2 separate regions of the Homo sapiens genome follow, and region 2 is linked to region 1. Evidence: fine-mapped expression QTL. A gene starts in region 1. The other region holds a variant in brackets. All regions are shown on one strand. Distances are from middle to middle. Region 1 holds the start of WDR17 (WD repeat domain 17). Region 2 has its middle 57 kb from the start of WDR17.

What was found. PIP is the estimated chance that this variant, and not a neighbour inherited with it, causes the effect. A credible set is the group of variants that fine-mapping cannot tell apart.
Region 2: its variant is the best candidate, but not a certain one, in a credible set for the expression of WDR17 in whole blood (TOPMed, PIP 0.84).

What each region holds. Positions count from the first base shown.
Region 1 is chr4:176,057,780-176,073,829 of GRCh38, forward strand. It overlaps WDR17 (WD repeat domain 17), which reads left to right and starts at 8,062. Exons shown (of 29, transcript NM_181265.4): 1 at 8,062-8,300. RefSeq lists a silencer at 7,938-8,317.
Region 2 is chr4:176,000,616-176,016,323 of GRCh38, forward strand. It overlaps a transcript of GPM6A not described here and the pseudogene MARK2P4. Among named protein-coding and RNA genes, the nearest start is that of WDR17, 57 kb to the right of the region's middle. The variant A/T (reference allele first, on the strand shown) is at 4,340.

The sequences.
Region 1 (16,050 bases):
GCTAGGTTTTTACCTATCATTGTTTATGATCTTACACTTTTTAAAACAGGTGAAAACTACCCTTCAACCTGGTGTCACTAAAAGATTAAAAGTTTGGATGAAGAATTAGTGCTGGCAAGCATCCTTAAAACAAAGAAATAAAAACCAGTGTCTTGGGGCACAAAGTCTTCTGAAATATCTTCAGCAAATTGCTTCATGTGGGACTCCCGTTCATAGCAACATATTGCCTTGTTTCATAGCAAAATGGCCTAAGTCATATTTTCTAGAACCAGATATCTGAACTTTGCTTTATTTTTAGTTTGGCTTAGTCTTTTGCATGGTTTCAGTCTATTGTATGTACTTCTTCCATTCTATTTATAAGGCTTTGAGAAATTTTATTTAAATGCACAGACAGTAGTATATACATACACACACATATATGAATCGAATGCCCATAATGGAGAGTTTTAGATTTAGGGAGTCAGAATGTCTATCTCAAATAAATGTTGTATGTTCCTTATACCAAAAAATATTTCCATATGGGATATACATGCTAAAAATAAATTATTATTTAATATCAGTCTGATAAAATTCATGATATAAGCTCAGGTGGCTGTCCAAATAAACAAGAGTAATTAATTTTGCCATTATTTCTATTAACTCCCAATATTTAATACTAATATATGTTCAAATAGCGTTTTTCATGTTTTTAAAAAAAGTAGTTTCATAATTTTTTTTCAGTCTGATGCACTAATTGTATACTATTGGGATATTTGAATACTAACTGGGGAAAATTAGTTCTTTGTGAAGGTCAAAAAATAACTATTGAGATAAAATTTGTATACAGTGAAGTGTGGTTTTGGCATAAATGTGATGATGGTGGATTCAAATCACAGCAGCTGAGACCATCTATGCTTTATGATCCCCACAGCTGGAAATGAGTAGTACATTCCGAAGGTCATGACAGAGAGACTGGGGTGGGGGCAGAGAGAGAGAGTAGATGAATACATAGACAGATGGCTTTGAAACACCAAGATTCATAAGCATTCCTGTGTCACACTTTTAGATAAATTCAGATGCTTTCTTATGATGTGGTAGTAACCGTTTAACAACCTGCTCTCTAAAAAAAACAATGTATGCGTATATGTATGTAAACAAATTTATTATAAATTTTAATGATATAAAATATGTCCCACACAATTTATGTATGATAATATAATACATTATCTTCTTTATTTTATATTCCATATAGCAAAGTGATTTTCACAGAATACTTTCATTAATATTTGCCAAACTCTTGTATTTGTATTGAAATTATGGTTGCAATTGACATTAATGTTGATTTTTTTATGTTAATGAGTAAGACAACAAAGAAACAATGAAGGCATATATAGAAACTTCACTCATTCACCATTGGCCTAAACAACTTATTAGCAGGATTGAATAACAGTTTTTGAATATTAAAAGAATAATTCCTCAGTTTTTGTGCGATTTCTAATGTAACAGTAATAGACACAACAAACTTTAAAGTTAAATTGCATTATTAATAGTTTCTCCATCATTTTCTTAAGTTTATACCAGAGACTGCCGAACTATTATAGCCTTAAGTTGAATACAGCTTGCCTCCTGTTTTTGTAAATAAAGTTTTTTTGGAACACAGCCACATCCATTCATTTATGTATTGGCTATGACAGCTTTCACACTGTCATAACAAATTTGAGTAGTTGTGACAGAGACCATATAGCTCTAAAGTCCAAAATATTGAGTATCTGGCTCCTAACAGAAAAAGTTTTCTGACTCCTGAAGTAAACCAGCATTTACCAATAAAACTTTCTGGTATAATGAAAATGTTCTTTACCTGCTCTGTTTGATACAGTAACCACTTAGCTACATGAGACTATTGAGTACTTGAACTATTAAGTACTATCATTGAAGAGCTGAATTTTTAATGTTATTTCATTTTAATTACTTTAAATTTAAATAGCCATGTTTTGCTAGTAGCTACTTTATGAAGCAGGGTAGGTCGAGACAGTTAACAACACGACGAATCATACCCTGATTTCTCACATTTGCTGAATTTCAAGGTGTAAATATGGAGTCCTAATAAGGGAAAAGGAGTCAGGCTGGTGGGACCAAGGGAAAGGAAAGAGAAAGCAGATAAGTTATAAGCCTACCTTTCTTCATGATTCAGGACTCATAGCCCTCCTGCACAAACAACTCACAACCTTTCTGTGCCCAGCTATCACTAGACCCTCAGCTGCTGGAAAAATGCAAGTTAGCTCACTGCAACCTTGATATTACAAATACTGCACAAAGCCCTTCTCAGTACACAGCACAAGCACCATTGTATAAAATCCCCAGCAAATTTTGACTCCTTGAAGTCAGCTCCTCTATTGCTGGTCTGCCCATTGCACGTTTGCGAAGTATTTTCATACCTTCTCCAATAAATCTGCCTTTTTATCTACAACTGTCTTGGTAACTTCTTCTTACCCTAATGCCACTGGCCTAGATAGTCATTGATTACCCATGATAGTAAATACATCCACTATGGCCAATTTCAAGCTATCAATGTGACATCACTGAACAAGTTAGGAAGAAATGTACATTATTATACAGTATTTGTACCATACAGTTACAATAAACATAAATAACCTCAAAAGCATAGATAAAACACTAGTAAATAATTAAGAAGTGATACATTTTGAGTATTTATTACTTCGATTTTTAATTTAATTAATTTAATTATACATTTATATAATTTAATTTTAAGAATAGATGTGTTTAATAATGAATAGCAAAATTCCTAAAAAATGTTAACAGTTTTCTCTCAAACCAGTGCAGTCTGGCTTCAGCAGATGACTGAGTGAAAACACCATGCTTTTTATTACTATACATAAAATCAATTGAACTAAAAAAAAGGTAAGTGAAAGAGAAAATCAAAAGGGTGCATTAGTCTGAAACTCAGTTTGTGAAAATGGATATACTGTCAAAGGCAAGGCATTTTTAGTTGTACAAAGAGAACAGTGTCACAGAAACTAACAGAGTAGGGATTTTTTACAGAGTCAGTGGATTCTAAGGGAATTTCAAAGAGGATCCCTCTCAATTAATATGCAAAATTTATGTAAAGATATAAAAACATTTTCCCGGGAATAAATTAACATTCAGGGAGGTTGGGGAATTTTGTTTTTGAAAATTTGAATATTAAAGTTGTTGAGTCTCAGTCACAAATTCAATAAGCACATTTGTGGCTTAAATATAATGAGTGTAAAGCTAAAACCATAAATCTTTGGATCCCAAATCTGAAATAGGTAAGAGTAGATGAGAATTAGCCTAAGCTGAAAAATGGAACCTAAATGTCTCATATGAGGCTAGGCAGGAGCCAAGATCATCACTTTGAAACTATTTGAAGAAAAAAAATTCATAAATTGAAATATGGTACTGAGAGTCATACAGAATTCAGCACAAAGGGACAAAGAGATTAAAACTATGAAAAGACAAGTGATAAATACATTTATGGGTAGAATTAACAACTCTCATATAGGTTCAATTAAAATTTTAGAAGTGAAAAATAGAATAAATATTCAAATAATGATGGAGAATTTTTACAACTGAAGATCTGGACTGATATTTGCAATGGGTATATCTAACACATAAACACCCTGAATATTTTAAAACCTAAAAAATCAATATGGAAAAGTTAAATATAGAAAAAAAAGGTAGTGAACAATTTATAAACTTAAAAAGATGTGTCATTCCAACAATTTCAGAAAGCACAAATTTAAATCATGTAGAGATATTACTATACATTCATTAGATTGAAAAAAGTATAAAACTCTGATGTTGATGATATGGAGCAGGAAAAGAGTTTCACTACTTTTTGCAATAGAGAAAAGTTCACACACTTATATGTTCATCAATAGGTAAATAATGATGATGCTATATTTTATATTCCTAATATAAGATATATATCATATAAATATATATACTTATATGTACCAATATTATAAAATTTTAAAATAAATGACAGAAAATAAAGCAAATTTAGAAAGTATATTTATCTGTTAGATTAGCTACATCTGGTTAAAATGAGAGAGTAATCAAATGACAAGAGAAAAAAGGAGAACTTCACTACCTATAATTTTTTTTTTTTTTTTTTTTGAGACAGAGTTTTGCTCTGTCGCCCAGAGTGGAGTGCAGTGGCACAATCTCGGCTCCCTGCAACCTCCACCTCCCGGGTTCAAATGATTCTCCTGCATCAGCTTCCCGAGTAGCTGGGACTACAGGAGCTCACCACCACGCCCAGCTAATTTTTTTGTATTTTTAGTAGAGACGGGGTTTCACCATGTTGGCCAGGATGGTCTCAATCTCTTGACCTCGTGATCAGCCCACCTTGGCCTCCCAAATTGCTGGGATTACAGGTGTGAGCCACCACATCCAGCCAATTTTTTTTTTCAAAGACAACGCAAATATGACAAAAACAAAATTTATTAACTATAGATATTTATTGCATTATTGTATGTACTTTCCTGTTTAAATATTTTACAATTTAAAAACAATTTTAAGAATTCTCTCAATATTGATCCTCTGGGCACAGTGGCTCATGCCTGTAATCCCAACACTTTCAGAGGCTGAGGCGGGCAGATTGCTTGAGGTCAGGATTTCGAGACCAGCCTGGCCAGCATAGTGAAACCCTGTCTCTACTAAAAATACAAAAAATTAGCTGGACGTGGTGGCACATGCCTGTAATCCTAGCTACTCAGGAGGCTAAGACAGGAGAATCACTTGAACCCTGGAGGCAGAGGTTGTGATGAGCCAAGAACATGCCACTACACTCTAGCCTGGGCAACAGAGTGACACTCTGTCTCAAAATAATAATAATAATAATAAATAAAGAATTCTATCAATATTGATCTAGAGAAAAAATATCAAATTTTCTGCAATTATTAAAAAAATAAAAGAATTCTATCAATATTGATCTAGAGAAAAAATCTCAATTTTCTGCAAAAATTATTGGTTAATTTAAGCCATTTTTATACCTCAAGAAGACCAAAGAGTAATAACCTCTAATATATTTCTTAATAGAAATAATAATATTTTGATATATTTAAATATATCTACCTTAATCATCAATATTGTGGCAATAGATTATATATCTATTTAAAACTATTTCAATTTTTAAGTGTTTTTACATAAAGTACATTTTTAAGTATTTAGTTCACTATTTACTGCACATTAGTTTAAGTTTTTTTTTCTGTTATACTTGTTTCTGCTCTCTTACCATTTTTACATTAAAAAAAAGTGTGAGAGGGCTTTTCAATTAGGTGAATCTAAAGTCTTTTTGGCTAAATTTTTCTAAAATTTTAGTTTAAGAAGTTTTTTTCTTGTTGATTTCTCATCCAGAATACATATTAAAAGGGCATTTGCCACATTAAATTGCATTGAACTTCCTTTTCAAAGCCATTGTACTCATAGAACATGTCTATCTATCCTTGAAGATGAATTTGACTGGAGTCATTTGGCTTCCCTAATCGCTCTGCTTTTAAATTTAATCATGAAGAACTCCGGGTACTCAGTGCTAAGAACTAATGATTGCCCTGAAAATGTCAGTCAGCCTAAGTGACTGACAATTTTTTCTTTGTGAGGTGAGTATATGACATTAAATACTGGTTGAATAAAAGAATAAAAAATCAGAGTAAAGAGATCTTTGTTTTATAAATTAGGTATATTGTTCCTCTAGATCTAATCTAACTATAGTTGTGATTATTTAAATCTGTTCAAAAGGAATGAACTAAATTCTGGTAAAGGAATAAGAGTCCTGAACTGGGAGACCGGGATCACTCTATCAAAATCTGCTGCTAATATGACTGGAGATTTAAACACCTTCATCTTTAAATTATGAGTGCACAACTAGATAATTTCAGTTGTCTCATTCAATTTTATGTTTCTTTCTTTTTCCTTTTTCTTTTTTTTCTTTTTTTTTTTTGAGACGGAGTCTCACTCTTGTCACCCAGGCTAAAGTGCAGTGGCGCAATCTCCGCCTTCTGGGTTCACGCCATTCTCCTGCCTCAGCCTGCCGAGGACCTGGAAGTACAGGTGCCCGCCACCACGCCCAGCTCATCTTGTATTTTAGTAGGAACGGGGTTTCACCACCACGCTGCCGTCAAACTCCTGACTTCAGGTGATCCGCCCACCTCGGCCTTCCAAAGTGCTGGGATTACGGGAGTGAAACACCGCGCCCGGCCGGTTTTTTGTTTCTTAACTGGAGAGCTGGAGCCATTATGAGCAAAATAAACATAAAAGATTTTTTCCGTCCAACCGATGGACTAAGCTAGACGTTGTATCTTCAGCATTTTCTCTTCATGTACACCATTGACTATTCAGCACTATACCTAGCAAATATCAGTCATAAATGAAAACTATAGTCTGTTTTCACAGAAATGTTTCTTGTGATTTTCCCTCTTCGCTATTCTTATTTTCATTGTCTTAACTCAGGTCATCAGCATCTTTTCCCATGAACTACTGAATTTTTCTCCTAACAGACCATGTTCTTCATCTTCCTGCATCCCATGTATCTCCAATGTTTCCAAGGTGTCTTTCTTGATGAAAAAGCACTGATTTTATAAACTTCAATCTCTTCCTTTGGTTTAGAGGTTAAAGCCTAACCCATATATAGAATTCTGCATCTTTCCCAATCAAGTTTTCTTATTTTTCTAGTACAGTCTTTTGCCAATTTCCATCTTCCTTCTTATCTTTGGATTCACATCCCCAACTCCGGAGAAGGCAAAAACATCAAATTTATTTACATCAATCGTTTATTTTTTCCCACTTTATGCTTTTGGCAATGCTGCTCCTGCTGCATAGTATACACTTTCCCCTTTTTATCAGGTGAAATTCTACCTATTTATAAGTCCCTGCTCAAATACTAATCATATTGAAAGCTTCTCTGAATACCTTGGAAGAAAAAGTTCTGCCTCCCTCATCTGAAATCATCTCATAGCACTTTTATGTAACCCTATTTTAGTACTTAACACATTGAGTTATATTTAGTTATTGCCCTTATACTTTCTCTGGTAGATTATGTGCTAATTTCTTTCTTTCTTTATCCATCTATCCATCAAGAATTAATTGAAGACCTGCTATTCATCAGATACTTTGTTAGAATATAGGGGACGGAGTTGTAAGAACTGATTTTAGCTTTAACAAGTTTATTCTTTATATGGAAATCCAACATTTAAGTTAATTTTAATTTACAATATAGAATATTGAGTGCTGTGGTAGGTACTCGTCTCTGCAGAGAATATTTTGGAAAAAAGGAGCATTAAAATCTACTGCATAGGAAGGTAAGAATTAGGCCCAGGGACTTTCTCTGGTTGAGGTCGACCATTCATTTATTAACTATTTAGAGTGGAGTATAATTAATTCTCGATAGATGTCATTAAATACACTTTGTTTCGAGTACGTCGAGGCTTATTCTCTCTAGTGTGTTGGATAAAGGCCACAGGTAGTGAAGATATTTCAGAGATGTGAAGAATCCAGTAGGAATGACAACATCCAGCACTTCCATTCAACCAGATCCCACAGGGAAAATGTCAGTTTTGTGAAGGCAGATACATTAACCACATACAACTCGATTAATATAAACAAATAATCTTATCCATTGAGCTCTCCCACAGACCTTCTTGGGCCCAATCAGACAATAATGAAGTGCAGGCGAGACAGCATTCTGCACTCACATTCCAGGCACTGGTTCAAGTCCCTCCTCCAGGTCCCTCAAGAAAGAGACAGGATGACTGACTTACTGTATATTTGACTCATTTTCCTAGAAAGTGCAGACTCGCTATAAAATGTGTTAGGTGGTGAGAACGCTGATGGTTCACCGTTTTCCTCCACTTTCAGCCTCAGTGCAAACCCTCTGCCCAAAGCCTCGCTCCAGTACGGAGGAGCTGCGCCTTCAACACACTTTCTCTGTTGCCAGGTAACCACTTCTCCCTCAGCCTAGTCTCCAAGGGTCACGAGCCACTTCCGCCTCCCCCTCTCGGGCGCTCCAATCAGCGACCTGTGTAGCTGTCACGTGGGCCTCTGGGGCAGACCCTGGAGATCGGGCTCGCGGCGCCTTCCATCGTGGCTCCGCGCTGGGGCTTGCGGAGCACGCTTCCCGCCCCTCGGAGCCCGCGGGCCCGGCCGCCCCGCCCCCGGGCGCCCTGAGCGAGCAGGCGGGGAGGGCGGGGAGGGTCCGCGCGTTGGTGGTGCTCGCCTCGCAGCTGCGCCCGCCGGCTTCAGCACCTTCCGCTGTCCGCCGCTGCAGCCGCCTCCTCCTCCAGGTAAGAAGCCGGTGGGGCCGCAGAGATACCAAGGCAAGCTCAGGATTGATGTGGGTGATGCTGGAACTGTCGCGGCGTCATGCGAGAGGGGCTCTGACCTCCCTGTGATCGCGGACCAGGGTAATGTACGTCCTGCAGGGCTTTGCACACCATGGTGCCTGATGAGATAATCAACTGAGTTTTAGAGCCACACACCTGATTCTTACAAGGCACAGCAAGCAGCGAATATTTATGTATCTAAACTACCATTGCAGTGTAAACTGTGGACATTTCGAGGGACATTGTTTTATTTTTATGGCTATTAAGTATATGTCTAGAGCCTAGGTTGCTGTTCTCATCCCTCCGCCGGCCAGACACTTCTGTATAGATCATTTACCCCTTTGAAGATGGACTTATTAGTAGGGTTGTACTAAGAAAGGTTTGAGTAAAAAGGAAATGCGTTCCAGAAAAAAGACGGTATTGGATATAAGGCAGGTATACTATTTATTAAGTAGATCGTAAAATAGAATCTTTGCTGTCCTCCCCTCTCCAAAATCAGACTTGTTTTGCTTGCAAAGATTGAAAGGAACAAACAATTTAAGGAGACTTTTTAAATATATTAATTAAAAGCAATTGATTCGAATGAAAAGTAATGAAAAGTCCGACCATGCATCAAAAATAAATTATTTTGCATATTAATATATACATATATACTATATATATTTAACAAGGGTTTGAAGAGAGATACTACATTTCTGAATCTTTCATAAATACCCTTTAGAGAAAACTATCAAAAAAACACAAGTTCGTTGTAAAAGGATACGAAACGGCCAAAGCCCAACAATGTGAGATTATAGTTGCCGTTCTTAGCACTCTAATAACATTTCTGCGTTGTAAAAATTAGAAAATAAATGACAATGAATTTATGAGAATTTATAAATTTGAACTCCACAAGAGTTTAAGCATTAATTTATTTGTAGATTTATGCCTTATCATTACCCTGCTTGCCAGGAGCTGATGCTGGGCGGGTGGTGAAACAAACTCTGTGGAGAAAGCACTCTTACATCCTTTTGAGATTCTGCCTCACTGGCCTAAGTGTTCAAGAAAATGGATATAGTTATATCTAACTGTTTTGAAGGCAGACGTCTGAGATAGGTGGTCTGAGAACCTTTCCCCTCCTATCATCTAAAATTAAATATAGTTATTAAGTGCTTTTGAAAAGTTGTCAATTCGTTAATATTTTGGGAAACATCCTTTACTGGATTGTTTGGAGATTAATGTTACAAATGGTAGCTTTAGAGTTCCTGGGAAGTTTTAAAGCAATGACTTATTTCAAAGGGCATATACGGAAAGTAAAGCTCTTGAGTTCTGCAAACGTAATTATGTAAAAATAACTAGTTGAATGTTATTGTTTACATTGTTCTGACTTTCTCTTGTGTTGATATTAATAGAACTGCTTAAAAAACTGTGGACATCTGAAGAAGACGTTAAATATGCTTACTTGAAAGTTTTAACATTCTTTATTCTTCTTATTTCTAATGATAAATAGTGGTGTTCTAAATATTTTTAAGTTACCCATTAGTCACATAAATAATTCCATAGATTAGAAAGCCATAAATTAATTTAGGCCAGAAAAACAATGCTCCCAGTAGAGGGGAGACTAGGGCTAGATTGCTTTTGTTGTTGCTGTTTTCTACAGACTCTATCTTGTATCCTTTAGTCTGGGAAAGGAGGGACAGGGCCAGTGGCAGTTTTTTAATTACTTGGAGAAGTTTAAGAACAGGTTTCTGTTTGTTTGTTTTATGGTTTTACCCTGATGGATACTAGAAGTCCAACATGAATGATTAGGTTGTCACTATTAATGAAATGTGTAAATTCTCCAGAGTACCTGATTTTGTTGCCTAAATACTTTAATGACGACTAAAATGTAATTCTGACAGTTTTGAAGGATTCACATTTTCATCCTATATTCCAGAATTTCTTTGAAATCTAACATATGCAAGAAAGGTAACGCTTTATCAGATTACTGAATTGTAATACTGAATACTTAAGAGTTTACCCAGCTATTCATGATAATTATGTATATGGAAGCATCATTGCTACTTTTGACCACTGCTGAATTATCTCATTTTACATTTTGTATACCTCTTCCATTGAACAGATGGAAATATTAAAGTGAAGTCATGTATCTTCCAGTACGTCTTCAGGAACAGAGATTTCATCGAAATTATATTAATTTATAGAAATCATATGAGGATAGGCTGCGTGCGGTGGCTCATACCTGTAATCCCGGCACTTTGGGAGGCTGAGGCAGGCGGATCACCTGAGGTGAGGAGTTTGAGACCAGTCTGGCCAACATGGTGAAACCCCATGTGTACTAATAATACAAAAATTAGCTGGGCGTGGTGGTGCACGTCTGTAATCCCAGCTACTTGGGAGGCTGAGGCATGAGAATCTCTTGAACCCAGGAGGCCCGGAGGTTGCAGTGAGCCAAGATTGCGCCACTGCATGCCAGCCTGGGCGACAGAGCAAGACAACGTCAAAAAAATTAAAGAAAAGAAAAAGAAAAAAAGGAGGATATTGGAAGGGATTTTTTATTAATTCATGCTCCTTTTCTTTTGTATCAGAAACATATGAAACTTAAGATTTGGTTGGTACTTTTTGATACCCAAGACTGTGCTTTATCCTGTTAAAATAGTATCGTGATTATTCTTTCATTGTTGATAAAACTATTCCTTGAAATTTGTGAGCAAGAAATTAGATACGGATACCTGAAGAGAATTTTAGAAATTCTCCCAAAGAATCTACTCTATAAGGAAACAAAACCTAGAGAAAAACATTTTTCTTATTTGAGTTTACTTAAAATGTTCACGAAGGACTTGCAACTTTGGTAATAAAAATTGGTAGAAATAATATAAAATGATCAGCTTTGTATAGTAAAAGAAAAATTCCCATCACGATTAATTAGAAAGATTTGAAAAGTTTCCATGCTTAAAGCATGGGCTGTCACATTAGAAGGCAGAGTTCAGGTTGTTTTCATCTGATTTCAGTGACTAGACAGGTATAATTTCAGTGACTAGTCAAACATTTCAAATAGGCTAGATTTTGTAAGAAAAAAAAAGAACTTGATATTGGAGCCACAGCTGGCACCTGCCTTCCAGATGTCACATTATCAGCTACTTGAGGAAAATAATTTATATATATATATTGATAAAAGTCTTACTTTTTATTATGTTAAATGTACTTACAAAGTATTGTTCAGTAAGCTGTCTTATAAAATTCTGTAATTCTACATTCTAATTTAAAAAATGTACTGTAGAAATAGACAGTAATATAAATCTATAATTAAGATAATACAGGAGGTAATTTAACAATGTTATTTGCTATGATAAGGATGATTGATAATTGTCATGTTCGGATAAATTGTAGCAAAAGTGTAAGAAATAAATTTCCATGTGTCAGTGAAGATGTTATAACAGTCAATACTTGTTTTGTACATTCAAATGTTCTGAGATGGAGAACTCAAGATTGAGGTCCTTAAACAATTTTTCTTATGCTTAGGTTTATTGTTTTCTTCTTCCAGATTCTTCCCATTTTTTTTAGTTGTAAGCATGTACCAGTGTCCCAGGCAGACTCATTTACAATGATGTGTAGTAAGTTCAATTTCATATCACGCACACAGAAAACTTACTTTCAAATCGGAAAGTAGAAAATAATTTTTATTACACAAAGCACTCGTGTTTAACATGCTATTAAAAAAACCCTTCATTACAATACAAACAGCTCCACATGGAGTCTCAAAAAAATGAATAGTTGGTTAATAAGAAATAGCTAACATTTAATTAAGTTTGATTCTTTAAGATAAAACATTATGGATGACTTTTAATGAAAAGAGTTATGCAACATTTTATTTTTAAGGTAAACAGGTTTGAAGGGGTCATTTTGGAATTTATGATAGAAGGATCCTTAAGACCAGTTACTCTAACACCGTTATTCTGTTAATGAGGACACTAAACACATAAAAATTATGTTCTCAAAATTAATAAGGGAAAAGCTGGCTTATGTTCTACTTCTGAAGCTTTACTTGGGAGTACCATGAACTACTAAATAAATGAATTTATTCCTGAAAATATAATAGTGGATACGTTTCGTTAACATTTATATATCAATAGTAGCTTTTTGGGCATAATGTCTCACCTTCAAAATTAATTCATTAGCTCATGTTTAGGGGGAATTTTATGTTGGCTCAGAGCGTAATATTTGACTTAGGCAGACTAATATGTAGATTACCAACCTATCAGATCTGTGCCTGGGCCCTACCTTAGGTAATACAGCCCTTTACTTAGCAAATTAAAATCAGACTTATTTCAGGCCTCTGTCAATATATTGAATGCATATATTGAAGAAAGTTTCGAGTTTAGTTAGTTTATGTAGATCCTTTTTTCCCTTTTTTTCCACTTCTTTTTTCTTTTCTTTTTTTCTTCTGAGACAGGGTCTCCTGCTGGAGTGCAGTGGTGTGATCATGGCTCACTGCAGCCTTGAACTCCCAGGCTCAATCAATCCCCCCACAGCAGCCTTCTGAGCAGCTGGGACTACAGGCACGCACCACCACTCTTGGCTAATTTTTTTTTTTTTTACTTTTCGTAGAGAAGACAGCTCACTATGTTGCCCAGGCTGATCTGGAACTCCTGGGCTCAAGCGATCCACCCAACTTGGCCTGCCAAAGTCCTGGGATGCATGAGCCTCTGTGACTGGCCCTGTTTTTGTTTTTGTTTTTGTTTTTTAATATTCAAGCTTCTAAGCATCCATTTGATTTTCTTTGCTGGTTTTCCCAAACTGACTTGCCAAAATAATTTTTAACACCTTTTCCCAGAACATGAATATGCCAGCATTAAGTGACTTTCTGCCCAATGGGGAATCCTAAGTTTGATAGACAGATAAGCATGAAGGCTCATCCTGCTTCAAAAACTCACATACAAAACCCAACTCACAAACCAGGTTAATTAGAAGGGGAGCGAGGGTCCTGGGGATTACATAGCAATTTATGGCAGAGTTCCTCAAGTCTTTTTTTTTTTAATGAGCAGTGATTCTATTTATAAAAATAGGGGTATACTTTTTGCCACACCCTGTTGAAGAAATAATCTTGTATCTTTTTATGACAAATATTTACTTATTTCCTTCCATAGTGTTCTCGCAATGGAATATTTACTTCAAAAATTCTTAGTTTATAATTGAAAATATGTGATTTCTCCCTTTTCTTTTTTCTTTTCTCTTTTTTTTTTGAGACAGAGTCTCACTCTGTCGCCCAGGCTGGAGTGCAGTGACACGATCTAGGCTCACTGCAACCTCCAGCTCCCGGATTCAAGCAATTCTCCTGCCTCAGCCTCCTGAGTAGCTGGGATTACAGGCGCAGGCCATTATGCCCAGCTAACTTTTTTATTTTTAGTAGAGACGGGGTTTCACCATGTTGGTCAGGCTGGTCTCAAACTCCTGACCTCGGCCCACCTTGGCCTCTCAAAGTGTTGGAATTACAGGCGTGAGCCACCACACCCGGCCTTTCCCTTTTCTATTATTCTTTGGATACCTCTCTCAGAATGGTCACAATGAAAGTATATGAATGAGCTTGTTGAAGTAGATGTGGATTACTTCTTTGATCAAATCAAAAATTATTTCCATGTTGCAGCACAAAACGTTCTGTAATCCTCTAAGCATCTGGGTAAGTCTAGTTCCAGGATTCAAATCCATATAATTTTCATTTTCATGGCTAAAATGGAGGAAAGTATAAAAATATATGTAAATAGATAATAAAGGTAACTCCATTCATCTTTCTGTATCTTTGAATCGGTGTCTTGCTCTTTTGATGTTCAGTGTTTGGTCTTAGATATAACTCCTGTGTTTTGTTGACCAAGATGGAATTCATACTGGTATAAGTGGTCATTTCGTGAGTCCAAAGTAGAACTGCCATAATGACCTCATTCTTCTCTACTTGCTACCTAATCCAGGATTTTAATGTAGGCTAGTACTGTACTTGTGACCTATTTTGTCTTCTAAGCTTTTAAGAACATCATGATTTGACATATATTGGGAATGCTTAGATAACACTGCCTGCCAAGCATGTAAAAGGTAAACTCAGAAATGCTCAGGTAAACTCAAGCATGTGAAAGGTAAACTAGACATTTCAGAGATTAATCTCAGACAGTAGAAGATACCAGAGACAATTTTTCTTCCAACTCATCTTTATAGACATTGAACTAGGCCAGTAGTTCTTAAGGCTTGCTGTGCATTTAAATTGTCTGAGAGTGATATTGAAAAGCTCCACTCCAAGGTTCTCATTTGTTGGAGTTGGGATGTGATTCACAAGTCTGCATTTTTAGCAAGTATCTAAGTTAATTCTGATGCGAAATACTTGAGAGCCACACTTTGAGATACACTGATTAAGAGATTTTTGAAATCCTATTTATTCTTGATAATGTATGTTGCTATCTATCACAATGAGAATAATGCTCATTTAGAATTATGGATACAAGAAGAGCTCAAGTTAGTGGGCCAATGGATGATTTTTTTAAAATTCCTTTCATTTTTCTGCATTTTCCAGATGTTTTCCAGAGAGCAAGCACCTATGGATTATATGAGAAGACATATTTTTTGCATAGCTCCGAGCACATAGTATATTTACACTTTAAACACTGACATTTCAACAATGTGTTTTTAGGGTTTTATTTTTTAGTAATAAAGGCAATACATTTCCATTACAGAAAAATTACACAATTCAGAAGAGTATAAAAGTGAGTTTCACAAAACTATCTTGAATCTCTGCATCCTGGTATAAAACGCTGACCTTTTAATAGACATTTTTAGGTACTTTTATTGATTTTTCTTACTATTTCTCAGACATTCCCAGAAACACATCTCTGAGTCTTTATTTTTGTGCTCCCTCTTTTTAGCAAGATTTTTTCACCAGATGTCTTATATTTTGCTTTCCTTCAAATGTCTGCTCAGTATCACCTATGAGGACTTCCTGTGCCATCTTTTTATTTTTTATTTTTTATTTTATTATTATTATACTTTAAGTTTTAGGGTACATGTGCACAATGTGCAGGTTTGTTACATATGTATACATGTGCCATGTTGGTGTGCTGCACCCATTAACTTGTCATTTAGCATTAGGTATATCTCCTAATGCTTTCCCTCCCCTCTTCTCCCACCCTACAACAGTCCCCAGAGTGTGATGTTCCCCTTACTATGTCCATGTGTTCTCATTGTTCAATTCCCACCTATGAGTGAGAACATGCGGTGTTTGGTTTTTTGTCCTTGCGATAGTTTGCTGAGAATGATCGTTTCCAGTTTCATCCATGTCCCTACAAAGGACATGAACTCATCATTTTTTATGGCTGCATAGTATTTCATGGTGTATATGTGCCACATTTTCTTAATCCAGTCTATCATTGTTGGACATTTGGATTGGTTCCAAGTCTTTGCTATTGTGAATAGTGCCGCAATAAACATACGTGTGCATGTGTCTTTATAGCAGCATGATTTATAATCCTTTGGGTATATACCCAGTAATGGGATGGCTGGGTCAAATGGTATTTCTAGTTCTAGATCCCTGAGGAATCGCCACACTGACTTCCACAATGGTTGAACTAGTTTACAGTCCCACCAACAGTGTAAAAGTGTTCCTATTTCTCCACATCCTCTCCAGCACCTGTTGTTTCCTGACTTTTTAATGATTGTCATTCTAACTGGTGTGAGATGGTATGTCATTGTGGTT
Region 2 (15,708 bases), 57 kb before region 1:
GCATTTTAATGCTTTTAATACAGCTAATGAATAGACTACATCAAGTCAATTATTTTGACTTTCCATTTCTGACAGCTTTTCTCCTGTGTGAGCATAGAAACAAGAGTTTATAGGCTCAAGTGGTCAAGTAGAACAGCAAGTGTTGGGTTTAGGAGAAAAATTTAAAATATTCCGGACCTGTCTTTCCAATGGAACACAACACTTAACAACCAAATAAAAAAAAGAGCCTGAAATACTCTCTGCCACACTTGGGAAAATGTTTTATCTTTCTTTTTTAACCTGAAAATACTCCTTCCTTTTCAGAAAACATTTAAAGACAGTCCTTCTTAAGACCATTTCCAACACTGTTTATACAAAGGCCCTAAAAATGGGTCCTTCTAAGACACTTCCAGGGGTCAAGCAAGAAGAGACTATGAAAGTCTTGATCACAGCTAACATTCATAGGCAAAAATGTCCTCAGCTTTCTCTTTTTTCCTTTCTTCCAAGTTGGCTACTGTCTATAAACTCCAGAAATTAGTAGTCAAAGCATCCCCTAACCCTTGAGCCTGTGGGAATACAGGAATTTCAACCCGAGCACGTCAGTCCCCAAGGCCTCCTTTACTCTTGGAGAAATCCCTCACAACAAAGGACAAGGGAGAAGCAAGGGGGAGGGGCGCCCAGTGGACTTGGCTGGAAGAAGTGAGCGGGCTGGGGTTGGAAGAGTAACTCGGGCTGCGGGCTGAACGCAGTCGGCAACCGCGGAAGAGCAGCATCTCCCCTGCGCCTGTGGATACGCCAGTCCAGGGATGGCGAGTGCTTTCTCCTCCCCAGCTTCTCCCTCGCTCTTCGAGGTGACTCGTGGGACCCTGCGTCCTAGTGCTGGGTGTGAATCGGCTATTTCACACCCAGTTCTTCCTCCCCTCCGCCACACGCAGTCACATTCCTGGAGCTATTCCAAGCTGCCTCCGCTAAGCACCGAATAAGCGGACCCTGCCTGGAAACTTGAGCGAAGCTGAACTGCGCCGAACTCCACCGTCCAGTGACCCGAGCCAGTGTGGACGCCCTTTTAATCACGCTGTTTACCCAGGTGGAATTTAGGAAGAATCAGCCTTCAGCCTCAACCTCAAACCTTTTGTGCAAATGGGCACTTCGTTTGGAAAGGGACTAGAAATTGTCCCCAGTCTGGCCCTGCACCAGCACCTTCCTCTGCTCAAACCTGTACAAAGTGGAAGTTTTAGGAAGTTTCCATTTCTCGTGCCCCGTTTCAACTTGCTCCCCAAAGAGAACATGAAAACGTGGGAACTCGGGAGGACAGAGATCTCCCTGTAATCGCCTCGCTATTCGGATCCTGGGTCTCTTAGTCTTTCTTTATTTCCCAAATACCGCCCCCAGCACGGTAGACCGGACCCCCAGGCTTGGGTCCTGGGGCCGGCGCAGAGGATCAGCGCCCAAGCGCAGCCCCCCACCCTCCCGACCCACTGTAAACAGTCGGGCACCCTCCCTCGCCTCCAGGTGCCACCCCATCGCCATCGCCTCTCTCCCAGAAAAAAAAGTCCGGAGACAAGAGGGCGGGGGGCGGGGGACGCCAGGCGCGGGGGGAACAGAGCTGGGAAGGACGCAGTCTGAGGCCGAGGAACATTCATTTTCTTTCTATAATGCCCATTCCCGAGGCCGAGCCTTTGGGCGAGGTGTACGCGCCCGCCCGCGCACTCACCCATGGCCCGAGGTCCTGCTTCTCTGCAGTCCCCAGAGGAGAGCGAGTGACCAGACGCTGCGCGGGGCCAAGTTCTCCAAGCCGCGCTGAGGCTCCTCGCGCCCTGGCAAGTGACAGCCTCGCCCCTCCCAGCGGAGACAACTCGCAGGGCGCCTGGCGACTCTGCGGGCGCACAGACCCCTCCCTCTTTCCACCTGCCTCCTCTGCGAGAAGCCCGTTTTCCTCCCCTTCACTGTGGGTCTCCTCCCCAGAGGCCCCCACCCTGCCCCCTTTCACTTTCATTAGAGACACGTGCAAAGTCTCTCTCCTAAATACATTGAATGCACATTACAGACACACACGTTGTCTCAGCACCCCACAACCGACTCGGTAGCCAAGATAATGATCTCTAAGTGGAGTCTGGAAATAGATTATTCCAAAAGACAGGTTTCATATGATAATTTTATGTTCCCTTGTCTTCTGTGTACCATTTTGTTTCTTAATGATAATAACATTAATAAAGACAAGAGGAAGAGAAAATTCTCCCTTTAATTTATCCTTTGTCATCTCCTCTTTCTTCTACATAAAATATGTTTCTGTAATTGGACAAGGTTATAAAGTTCTAAAAACCATACACTCAAACACACATGCACACACCCTGACATACACACACACACACATCATAATATGCAGAAATCACCTGGAAAATAAACAATTCAATCCAAGAGGCAGTTGATGAGGCTGAAAGAGCACAGGGCTTGACAGTTGAGAGGATGAGTTGTAATCCTGGCTCATTTCCTAATTTGTAAAATGAAGGATCTGGAAAAAGTGATCTCTAAGGTCTCCTCAAGCTAAAAAAAAAAAAAAAATTATATAACTCTATGGGTTATTGACCTAGTTCTTTCAAGAGTCATACTGGAGAAGTTATTTCAGTAAGTCAGTCCCCAAGGTGTACACAGCTTTTTCATGCAAAGCACACCCAAAAGTATACATATCTATGCTGTGAGCAAGTGGAAGAATAAAATAAAATGGATATGATTACTTACCTTGAGGAACATTGCTATCTAATGGGGAAAAGGTGATATGAAAAATAAATAACAATATTTTTAGCAGAATGCATGGATAAATGCAGAGCATATCATTCAAATGCCACATAAACATCTGCACAGCTCTTTCTCACGTAATGGAAGAGGTATACTCCTGGCAGGGGTGTGTAAATGCACTTCAGTTACATGGGAATACAGTTATTCTTATGGGAGGGGAAAGGAAGTAGTCAACAAAAATTAAAAGTGTTCAACATATCATTCAGAAATGCATCACCCTTCTAGAAATTGACTAACATGAACTGTGACTGTAGCAAAGCATAACACTAATACATTTGTTCAATAAATATAAGTTGCTGGCTCACACTTGTACTTCTGGCACTTACAGAGCCTGAGGCAGGTATATCCCTGAAGCTCAGGAGTTTGAGATCAGCCTGGGCAACATAGTGAGACCTCGTCTCTCCAAAAAAATAAACAAAAAATTAGCTTGGTGTGGTGGTGCACGCCTGTAGTCCCAGCTACTTGGGAGGCTGAGGTGGAAGGATCACTTTATCCTGGGAGGTTAAGGCTGCAGTGAGCCAAGACTGCACCACTGCACTTCAGCCTGGACAACAGAGTGAGACCGTGTCTCAAAAAAAAAAAAAAAGATAAGTGATAGATTTTGGAGATTGATTCATAAGCTCAGTTTTAGGATCACCACAAGCAACTTACAATCTATCTCCTGAAGACTTATTCAAAATAATATTTGAATTCTAAAAATTAGAACTGTTTTTTGTTTTTTTCCCATCGGATTCTATGATAATCCTGAAATACAAAATAATAATTATAACATAAACTGAGTACAGTGTGCTAAGTGTCAGGCATTGTACTAAGGGCTTCATATTAGCTAATATAATTCTCACTAAAAAAGGAAAATACTGTTATCCCCACTTTACAGATGAGGGAATTAATCCACAAAGAGATTAAACACTTGCCCAAATTCTCATAATAAATGGGAATGCAAAATTCATACCCAGGACAAAATACTCCAGAGTTCATGATCTTAGTCAGTTAACCACATTGTTTCTCAGTATCCAACTGGTTTGCCACATGCTTGAGAAAGATGGTGATATCTTCCAACAATAAATATAATTCATAATTTTTTTTTTTTTTTTTTGAGACAGAGTCTGGCTCAGTCACCCAGGCTAGAGTGCAATGGCGCCATCTCGGCTCACTGCAAGCTCCACCTCCCGGGTTCATGCCATTCTCCTGCCTCAGCCTCCCGAGTAGCTGGGACTACAGGTGCCCACCACCACGCCCGGCTAATTTTTTTTTTTTTTGTATTTTTAGTAGAGATGGGGTTTCACTGTGTTAGCCAGGATGGTCTCGATCTCCTGACCTCATGACCCACCCACCTCGGCCTCCCAAAGTGCTGGGATTACAGGCGTGAGCCACCATGCCTGGCCTAATTCATAAATATTTTTAACATTCCCAGTAAAATATATGAAATTTAGAATACACTAAAGATACAAATCATCATATACTGGCTTTTAATAATCAAAATCATGATGTTTTCTTTCCTTTGCCTTATTATAAGTGAATAGATCAAAATGTTGATGTTGAATTCATTTATCTTACAGTGATG[A/T]TGTAAATGGTGTCAGTATCCTAGATCTCAGGTATAGAGAGGCCATTATCTCCCCTGAAATCTAACAAGTTACATAATTTTATATGGGATTCAATAAACATATAAATTAATTCATTATCTTACTTAGTACATTATTTTTTTACTCTAATTATCCGGTATTTCTGCTTTCTCATTCCTGTCACCTAATTGTCCATCAAGTCCTAAGGTTCTGTTTCCAAAATATTCTTCCCATTCATCCCGCATCTTCAGTTTCATTGCCTAGACCACCTTTTAGCAAGTCCTGTGGAAATATAACTAACACTTCTTTTTAAAAACGGAGATACTTACCAACCATGGGACTCAAAATTAAGGCTTTAGCTAAACTTGTAAAATTCTGAGATGAATATAAATTTTTCTTTTCTTTTCTTTTTTTTTTTTTTGAGATGGAGTCTCGCTTTTGTTGCCCTGGCTGGAGTGCAATGGCATGATCTTGGCTGACTGCAACCTCTGCCTCCCAGGTTCAAGCGATTCTCCTGCCTCAGCCTCCTGAGTAGCTGGGATTACAGGCATTTTTTAGTAGAGACGGGGTTTCACCATGTTAGCAAGGCTGGTCTCAAACTCCTGACCTCTGGTGATCCACCCACCTCTGCCTCCCAAAGTGCTGGCATAAGCCACCGTGCCTGGCTAGAAATTTTTCATGACATAACCTTGTTGAAGCCAAGGGAAGACTTCCCCTTTACTCTCTGAAAGTTCACTGAAAATCAACTGAGCAAAGATGGATAAATAGGAGAAATGGCATACAAATTTATTAATGAGCACAGAGAACCATAGAGTGATTACCTCAACCCCCAGTGGGGTAGCAAATCTTATATATTCCATCTTGAGGTTACAGAAAGAATTGGGGCTTTTATCATGGCAAAATAGGATACGGTGGCAAGACAGCTTATGGGAGGGGGAGAAGAGGAGCCCGGGCTTGCAAAGCTGGTCTTTCTATGCAGATGAAACCTTGCAGGGCTCAGCCCACACCAAGAACACAAGGTGAATGTTTCTTTCAGACTTTTAAAGGTGTCAGACTCTCAGTTAATCTTTCCTATATCCAGACAAAGGAAGGTCTCAGAGAGGGCCTGGCTGCATCAATGCAGGTTTTCTCTACTGATGCGAATCTCCCCCCACAAAAGGCAGCTTTTCAGCTATTCTTGAATTTCCAGCTTTTCTGAATAGTTTTCTTGAAATATGTCAAGAAAATATATTTGGAGAGGAAATATTTTAGTTTCCTTCTGTTCCCCTTTGGAAGTTTTTCTTTAAGAAAGTTTCACTTATTAAAGGCAAGGTTGATAACTTTGGAAAGATGTGAGTTAAAGGTTGCTATTTAGGAGGCAGGCAAAGGAGGAGAAAAACAAGTTAGGATAAGCAGAAAAGAACAAATTTAAATATGTTATCTCATATCTTCTCGAATCAGCCTCTTAGTCCTGAGAAAAGTTCAGTTGAGTTAAACAGCAGGGTCCCATTCCAGGAGGCGGCATGGCAGATGGGCTTGACCTCCATATACAGTGCAGACAAACAGATCTTTAGTAAGAGGCATTTCTGTAGAAACATAAAAAAAACAAAGATTAATGTCTGGAGTAGTCTATAAACTAATTTTTCTAGCATCTCTGAAGCATCTTTAGATGGCAATCTGACAGATTTTTCTGGATTGTAGTTCGAATCAGGTATTCAAATGAACGTTCGGCAGAGTCCAGACATCAATAGGCATGAAGACTGTTTGTATGTAAGTTTCTCTAGTGATTTCCCTGAAAGTTTATATCATGTTATCTAGTTTTAGTTTGCAGAGCTTTAAAAAAAAAAGCATGTTTTTAATTTCTAGTGATTTCAATTTAGAAAAATGAGAGAAAAATTTGAAAACCTTAAAGACTTGTAGCCAGAAAATAATTCAGAATGCAGTCCAAATTGTAGGCAAATAATAAAAACTTAAAAACAATGGACAAGGCTAAAATCCAATAACAGGCATACTATAGTTTTCTTCTGAAACATATGTTTCTCTCTGTAGTCCCCTAGGTCTACCAAAGATAAGACATAGTAAGACCAATTTATTTGCAACATAAGTTTTACTCCTATTGTAATTGGCCTAATTATTTGCACAAAGTGCAGTAAGAACAGTGATTGGCTATATGACCTTTTTTAAAGTTGGCTTTGCTGGAACTTTTACATAAGGAATCTCACATTCGATTTTTAAAAACCTCCCAAGGCTGGGAAGCCAAACCATGGATTTGCTATGAGACTGTACCCAATACCTGTATGAACTGGGTACATTCCCCTTTTCTCAAGGATTCCAAAATATCTTGAGGTTCCTGAAGCTGCCAAAAAGTGACATTCTACTTGCTGCAAAGTCAGGAACCTTGTAAGAGAACCATATAGACAAGCTACCAGGCCAGTATTTACAAGGGTTTTTTTTTTTTTTTTAATCAGCTCTAGAAAGTCAACCTCAATTCCTCAAAGTAGTAATATCTGAAAATATGTCATTCCATCCACAGCCTTGGTAAAATAGTGTCTACAATTGTGTATTATTTTGGGAAAAAACAGATTCTTATTTAATTTATGCAAATTACTATGTTGCCATAAAATAAGACTACTCACAAATAGTTTCTAAATTCTAGTGACACCAGGTAGAGAAAATGGTAAATGTTTCCACTTTGCTCACAAAAGTATACTTTACCAATTACTGTAAGCTATAAATAGTTCAAAAGAAAAAAAGAGTTTTCTTGACTCTAGAAAACAAAACAAAAACCATCAGCTATATTTCAAATTTTAAAAATCATAGAAAAATCATTCAGTTCTCTATCAGTTAAGTCTTACATGACTAACGTTTGTTCTGCTTGATGTTGGGTTAGCAATCTTCATGAACTCATTAGTTTTTTCATTAGACTTCTGGAAGTTTTTACCTAGTCTAATGGTACGACCTTCAAAGTTGTCAGAAACCTGTATTTCTGAGAATATTTGGCAATGTCCTTTCCATGAATTTCTTTGAAAAATAAGTACATTTTGGACTGTAACCAATTAAAAATAAGCACATTTTGTACTGTAGCCAGTTGTAAACTACTTTTTGAGAAGACTCAAAGTAAAACAATCATTGTCTGAGGATGACAAAAGATACAGAATAGCCATGGTTAAAGAAGCAATTGACAAGGAAATTTGGTTATTTTTGTGGCATACTGCAATTTAACATAATTATAATCATAACTGATATCATGTACCAAGATATATCAGAATTTTAGGAATTTCATACAATTTTGGAACACATTAATAACACATTTATACAATTATAACTCAAAGAAGAGTTAAGCACAATTTCTTATTTGACAATATTTCTGTATGATTTTTACACATCACATAAGCCTCATATGTCTCTCTTGGACTTCCAGGGGTTCTTTATGGAATATCCAAAAGTCAGTTTGAGGTCAAAAAGACTTAATTTTAGAATTTAAAATTTGGTATTGGAAGTTTGTCAAATATCAAAGGTTTAAAACACTTTATATTAAAAAAAGAAAGTGTTAAAATATTTGATCAAAATAGGATCACAGGTCACTGTAAATAAGTTATTCATTTAGCCAAATTCATAATTAAAAGATTTCAAAAGCAAAACACTTCACTCTTTGATAGAGAGGAGGTTCAGTTTTCCAATCAAAGTACCTAGTAAAGACAGCATGAGTCAAACTCTCCCTGCTACTTCTTATTTTTTGCAGTTTATTCAAAAGGTGAACAAAAATCTTCCATTATACTATCTCTTGCCAATACTACACGAAAATCATATTCAAAAGAGAAAACTAAAATATATCTTTGCATCAGCATTGTTAATGTTAGAGCTAATTTAATAAAATACTATAAATAGTTCCATTTAATCTCAATCAGTTTTGACCACATAAGATTTGTATAAAACTTTTATAACAAAAATTTTTTCATTCTTTTTCTTTCCCCAACTTTCTATATCCATTTAGTTTTATCTATTATTTTTTCCCTTCAATTTTAAATAACATTTATATGGCCTCTGAACTAGACAAAAATTAATTTACCTTTTCTTTAACAAAACCACATTCTCACACCTTTGTTATAACCTTCCCCACCCAAAACACATTGAACTTTCCTTATACATTTTTCATACAGAAATGTTTCTCACATCTGGTAGTTTTAATTTTATATACTAATTACAATGTTAACTCTTAGTAACCCTAATTTTCAGGGAAAAACCTTAGAAGTTAGCAATTTTAATTGTTATATACCAGACACAGTGCCCAGGACCTTTCAAGACAATTCCTGGTGAATCCAACTTCTTTCAAGGAGGAAAGACCTTTCCAGACAATGTCTAATGAATCCAACTCCTCCCTGCATGGCCATGAGGCACAGCTGGGTCCGGTAGGATGGGGTTCAAGTGCTGTGCCCTAGCCCTCACTGTGACCAAGTGTCTAAACCCTAGAATCTAAAGACTCAAAACCAAAGAAATAAGCTCGCAGACAAATTAAGCAAGTATCAAATATATCACAGAAGAAACCATTTTTTGGCCTTAAAAACATGTAGAAGAGACAGTATAAATTTGTCTGTCCAATAGATCCAGGCAAAAATGTGTGAATTATATGTAATACCTACAATTCTGAAGACATTCTAATTGTATTTTACTAACAGTTTTTAAGCCAGTTTTATTTACCAAAGATTTCTCATGTCACATGACCTTGAAAAGCACTGGGATTTAATCTAGGCATGAGTGACTATGGGTCATTGAATGAGCATTTTATGTTCCAGCCAAATATCATTTCTACATTGCCAATGATTTTTAATTCACTGAGGGAGAATGTTCAATAAGAGGAAAGGAACACTGACAATGGAGAATGGGAACACACAAACATTTAATAACTGTGGACAAAAGGAGTTCATGCAGAGGAGTGCAAAAAATAATCTTAGGCTAGGAAAAGAATCCAGAGAAAGTCCTGTAGAGAACGTTTCAACAAGAAAGAAGTGTCAACTAGATAAAACAGAAAGAGCGAAGAAGACGAGGACTGGCAAGTTCCCTTCGGATTGGTGGTTATGAAGTCACTGGTGAAACAGTAGCAAGAGTATTATGGAAAAGTGAAGAGCAGAGAGATAAAGAATAAGGAAACGGGTGGTAGAAAAAGAGTGTGGACAACCTATTTACAGTTCACAGTGAAGGAAGGCAGAGTGGGCAATAAGTGTCAGAGAAAGTTTATTTATGAAAGAAAAAGAACTGTATGTTTCATATGTTAATGCATATATAGGTTTCAATCTTAGAGATCTACTTCTTAGAGTAGAATGAAGAGATACTATCTGGAACACAGGAGGAGGAATAAGCCAGAGAGAACAGGCAAAATTGCCTAATCCTCTGAGATAGAAAAAGAAGTAGAGAAAGTGAGTGTAAAGAAAAAAGAAGAAAGATTTTTATTTCAGTATGGAGCTTTGGAGCAGAGGGCTGATAACCTCAGGACCTCATGGAGGCCTGATAACCTCAGTATTCCGTAGGTATGTACTAGGAAGGAGATGTGCTGAGAGAGAACAAATTGGGGCTGCAGCTCCACTTAAGAAAATTAATGAAGTTTGTTACAGCTGCTGTAGTGAAGAGGAGAGGGAGGTGACCACGGTATAATAAAGAAACATCAAGTAACATTGAAGTCCAAGCAGAGACTGAATCTAAATTTATAGAGACACCAATCTATAACTTGACTATAGGAGAGGATAAAACAGAAAGCTGAATTTAAAGAAAACTGAGAGCATTTGTGAGTGTAATGGTAGAGCGGTAGGAAGAAGAAGGAGGTAAGGCTGATGGCAAAAACTACAAAATGAGTTAATTCATCTTGGGTCTAAATTAGAACAGGAAGAAAGAAGACCCCAGGACAGTAGCTATGGACTGTGAGAGAAGAAGGGGACACAGTACTGAAAAGATAAAGGAAGTTTAAGAGCAGATTTGGCGTAAATAAAGCTTGAAAGATGGGGATAGACAGAAGTTGTTGTTCAGCTATTGCTGTATTAGACCTTAATATTTCAGAGGCTGAGAAATTTGGAGTGCAGAGAGATCCAGGGAAAGACTAAAGATTAGGTTTGTAAAGTTCAGCAGAAGTGACAGTTCCTGCTATTGAGGCAAGTCTTTGAAGACAGGTGCTGGAAGAATTATTAATAAGGATACTACAGTACACCACAGTGATTATATGGATTGCAAAGAAAGAAAAAAATGTCAAAGTCCAATTTAAATAAGATAATGCATTAGAAAGGCTGAAAATTTTAAACAGTTATAAAAATGTTAGCTGCAACTATGAAAATTGCTGAAGGGAATAAATGAAAACAGTCGATGTATACCATAAATATGAAGCATAAATTTTCATAATTTATATACGAGTAAGGACCAAGAGGAAACCATGGATCCTTGAGCAGGGTAACCAATGATAAAAAAGATGGGGAGATCAGGCTGATTTTCCAGGGAGTGGAGGTTCCATCTACAAGACTCAGATCTTTTTTGTGTTTGCTTTTTGTTTTGGTTTGGATTCGTTTTTGCTCATTTGTTTCAGTTTTACAAAGACTGAAGTGGTTGTTTCACAAAATATATATTGTACAGATAGTACCCTCAGGCCTTATTTTCCCAGCCAGAAACACCAACACAACAGCTTCCAAATGCAGTCTCCTTTACAATTCATTAATTTTTGTTCTATTCCTAGGATGGCCTCACTGGGCTTTGGTTTCCCTTGAGGAAAGTGATTTTCTTTTGTGGTTTGCAGTTGAGTCACAAGAGAATTTTGAAGGGTTTTGAGCCTCCCCGTTGCAAAGCTGTAGGTAAGTGTCTTGTGACAGCTATAGCAATAAAGCAGAGTGGTTTTCCTTAACATTTAAATGCAATAATTAGCATATGTTGTTTTAAATTGTGTGTGTGTGTGTGTGTGTGTGTGTGTGGGTGTGTGTGTGTTTTATATTTACAGAACCATGTTCTCGAAGCAGTCCAGTCTCTAAAGTTTCACCAGGTGGGGCAGAGTGCCAGGCCTATGACTAGGGCCAGAGGTCTCTCCTCTTGTCTCTCTGATGAATACTGGCAGTTCCCCAGGCTTACCAGTTATTCTGGAGATAATGCTTTTGAAGGCCTCAAAGGTGCTGAATATCATCTTAATTTGAACCCCACAGAAAGAGTTTGGACACCTCCATTCTTCACTGCACAAAGCTCTCTTGACCAGGCACCTGGCTGATCTCTGGCATCTCGGTGGGCTACACGGAGCTCATGGTCTTCATTCTCCAGGTAAAACCAGGGAGCACAGCTTGAACTCCTGACATTCTTTCTTGATTTTATCACTGCCTCTCCTGCCTCTGCTGCCCATCTTTTTATGTCTGATATGCACTGCTTTCAGCTTTATGCTGTTATGTTTCTGGCCAACTGGAAACATACATATCTGCAGATCAATGGTGAGGAACCTCCCAGTGCCCCACTGCAGGGTCTGGCTGTTATCAGAAGAGGCTGGGGGTCTCATCCTCAAGCATATTTTGCTGGTTGTGCACCTTTCCGAACTGCCCAGAGTGAAGGGATTTTCATCTGGAGGAGAGACCCTGGAGGAAATCAGTTTCAACTTGGGCTCCACCAATGCTGCCAGCATTGTGGGTAGAGAGGGAGGCCACAGGGCCATACTGGAGGGCTATGCTGTAAGGAGGTGGTCTTCACCTCTAGGCAGATTAGGTGACCAGCAGGCACTTTCACAGAGCCACTGGCCTTCCACTCTGACTCCTGGTTCTGCCCGGACCACTGAATTCTTGTGGCACTCTGACTACATTTTTGAAAAAATTTAATGAGTTCATGTGAATATTCAGTGATTCATGGATTGGGTAGCAGCAGATCACAAGTGGTTCAGTGCCCCACAGAAGGGGTCATAAGGGGACTTTTTAAATAAATTCAACTTTTATTTTAGATTCAGGAGTACATGTGCAGGCGTGTTACACCGGTATATTGTGTGATGCTGAGGTCTGGGCTATGAATGATCCTGTTGTCCAGGTAGTGAGCACAGTACCCAATAGATGGCTTTCAGCCCTTTTGCCTCTAATATATGTCTACTATATATATAAACATTATACATATAAATATATAATATATATATTTTTTTTCAGCCCTTTCCCGTCTAGTACCTGTCTACTATACCCATCTTTATGTCCATGTGTACCCAATGCTTAGCTCTCACTTACAAGTGACAACATGTGATACTTGGTCTTCTGTTCCTGCATTAATTTGCCTAGTATAATGGCCTCCAGCTGTATCCATGTTGCTGTAAAGGACATGATTTCATTTTTTGCGGCTGCATAGTATTCTAGTGTATATGTAGCACATTTTATTTAACCTATTCACCACTGATGAGCATCTAGGCTGCTTCCATGTCTTTGCTATTCTTAGAGTGAGAATTAAAGGTGGGAATGGCAGGCTCATTGAAACTCTGCCGCTTTGAGGTGGCAGAGATCTCATGCTATACCTTGCAAGTGAGGAAGGAGTACAGCTGTTGGTGGGATGAGCTGAAGCCGAGGCTTGAGGATAATGGGGTAGTGCTCCATCTCAGATCTCTCGTAGCCCAGGAGCAGATGGATGGTCATTGCTTTGGCATAATTCTGACCCATTAACAAGCTCTGAATCTCTTCGCACGTATAAGCCATGGGCATTATCTCAGTCTGTCAGGGATTCTTAAAAGCAGGAAGTGGTCAATGTAAGAGTTTAGATTTCAGTTCCTCCTCGTGGTCCATGTTCATCCACGGATGCTTCATGATTTCCTCTAAAGTGCCTCTCCTGCGAGAGTTGAGGACAAGAAATTTCTTGAGCAGGTTTTCACACTCCATGGGCATATAGCAAGAAATACCAGATATTCTTCTCAATATCTACTCTGGCAACTCCTTGAAGTTCTGTCTATCACAAGGCAGCAGGGGCACACTGAGCAGCCGATAGAGGATAACTGCCAGTCTTTACTCATTCACTAGCAGCTGTTGTACTTTGGGCCCTGGAAGAGCTGTGGGGCAATATAAAGAGGGCTGCCACAGAGGGCAGCTAGCTTGTTGCCAAAGGTGAATTTGTTGTGAAGCTAGCCTACAATGTCAGCTGTGCAGATGTTCTGCCCACAGGTCTCTAAGGACCATACACCTCTGGTGGTAACACTGCACAATAGGCACTTCATGGCAAAATTCGCCTTGTGCTTTTTTCTCTTTCATGCTGCCATCAGCCACCAGGTAATGGAACACCCCCTCCTCCACCAACATACTCCACAATACTGTAGAGGATTTTCTTAATGTCAATCACTTCAGATAATTTCACTATGGTGGGTTGATTCAAGGCCTTCTTGATTTGGTTTTTCTGGAACAGTCACAGGAGGCTGGGGGAGTTCTGCTGAGTCTTACTGATGGTCTTTGCAGCCACCTCTTTCCCAGTGAAAATGTGCCACACCAATTTCACCTTGGTGAAGTTACCCCCACTGATGGAGCCAGTCGACTAAGGAGCCAGTCGTTGCCATTATGGGTCTCTTCCTGAATAGAGATGGCTGAGAGGCACTGCAGCATGTTGGGCTTATAGGCAAGTTGTCACAAAGTCAGCTTACAATTGGGAAAAGCTGGTGAGAAGCTTGGTCCAAATCGCATCAACAGAAACTCAGGCCCAGAGTCTACCCAATGAACTGGTCATTGAGAGGAATCAAAACACAACACCAAACAAAAATAAAAAGTACCAGAAATTAACAATAACTAAACAAAAAAATGAGAGAAATTAAGAAAAGAAAAATGAGAAAAAGACTGAATAATAAAAATGAGAAAAATAAAAATGAAAAAGGGCAGTGAGAAAAAAGAAAGTAAGAAAATAATAAAAAATGAGGAACAGAAAAAAACAGTATAGAAGAAAAATTTAAAACAAGCAAAAGAGAAAAAAAGCCAAAGAGATAAAAAGTTAACTTTGGTCAAAGTCTCTCAGGTCATGGAAAACCAGCTTCCTGAGCTGGAAGCACCAAAGTTTAGACCCAGAAGTTGTAGGTTCTTAGAATTTCATAAAAATAGCTCCTTATGCAGGTTATAGCAAGAAATGAACTATCACTGGTAAGGATAATCCAGAGTGGTTTTCTTACATTTTGGTTTTGGAACACATTTCTCTTAAGAGGGGGGTTGAGGTGTTCCTAAAAAGCTTTTAATCTGAGTTATATTGATCAATATTTACCTCGTTAGAATTTAAAACCTGCAGAGTGTTTCAGTGACTTTTTCATTCCTAGTTTGGAACTTACAATAAACTTTGGCTTTTAAAGAGCTCATAGTATCTACATTTAAAATATATAATTTCTTTCTTTCTTTCTTTCTTTCTTTCTTTTTTTTTTTTTTGAGACGGAGTTTTGCTCTTGTTGCCCAGGCTGGAGGGCAATAGTGTGATCTCAGCTCACTGCAACCTCTGCTTCCTGGGTTCAAGCAATTCTCCTCTCTCAGCTTCCTGAGTAGCCTGGGATTACAGGCATGCCCCAACATGCCCGGCTAATTTTGTATTCTTGGTAGAGACGGGGTTTCACCATGTTGGTCAGGCTGGTCTCAAACTCCTAACCTCAGGTGATCTGCCCACCTTGGCCTCCCAGTGTTGGGATTACAAGCATGAGCCACTGTGCCCAGCCTAAAATTTATAATTTCTTTTTTAAAAACTCTGAATGGTTGGTCTCAAAATGACGTCACAACTTAGCTGACATCATGATACTATACAAAAATGTTCCATTGCATAGGACACAATCAGATATACTTAGGTATACATTATTAGGATTTTTAAAGCTGAGGGGAAGATAGCTTCCATCATACTCTCATTTCTTATTTAAAGCTTTGCCTTTCTTTGGAGAAAATTCCTCCCTTCCATGAGATAGATGATTCATTTTGTTCATGTCAGTATTTTCAAATGTAGAGGTTGCAACTGTCAGTTGAGAAAGCAAGTTTCTCTTTTTCTTTTTTCTTTTTTCTTCTTTCTTTCTTTCTTTCTTTTACTTCTTTCTTTCCTTCTCTTTCTCCTCTCTCTCTGTCTCTTTCTTTCTTGCACTTTATAGACTATTTAAAATAGTAGTTTAGGTTCTCAGCAAAACCGAATGGAAGATATGGAGAGTTTCCATATCCCCCTACCCAACACATGCATAGGCTCCTCCACTATCAACATTCCCCATAAAAACAGTTCATTAGTTACAATCAATGAACCTACATTGACACATCATTATCTTCCAAAGTCCATGGCTTACACTGTGGTTCACTCTTGGTGTTACATGGTCTATGGGTTTGGACAAGTGCATAAATGACTTGTACCCACCATCATAGTATGCAGAATAGTTTCATTGCTCTAAAAATCTTCTGTGCTCCACTTATTCCTTCCTCCCTCCCCACTA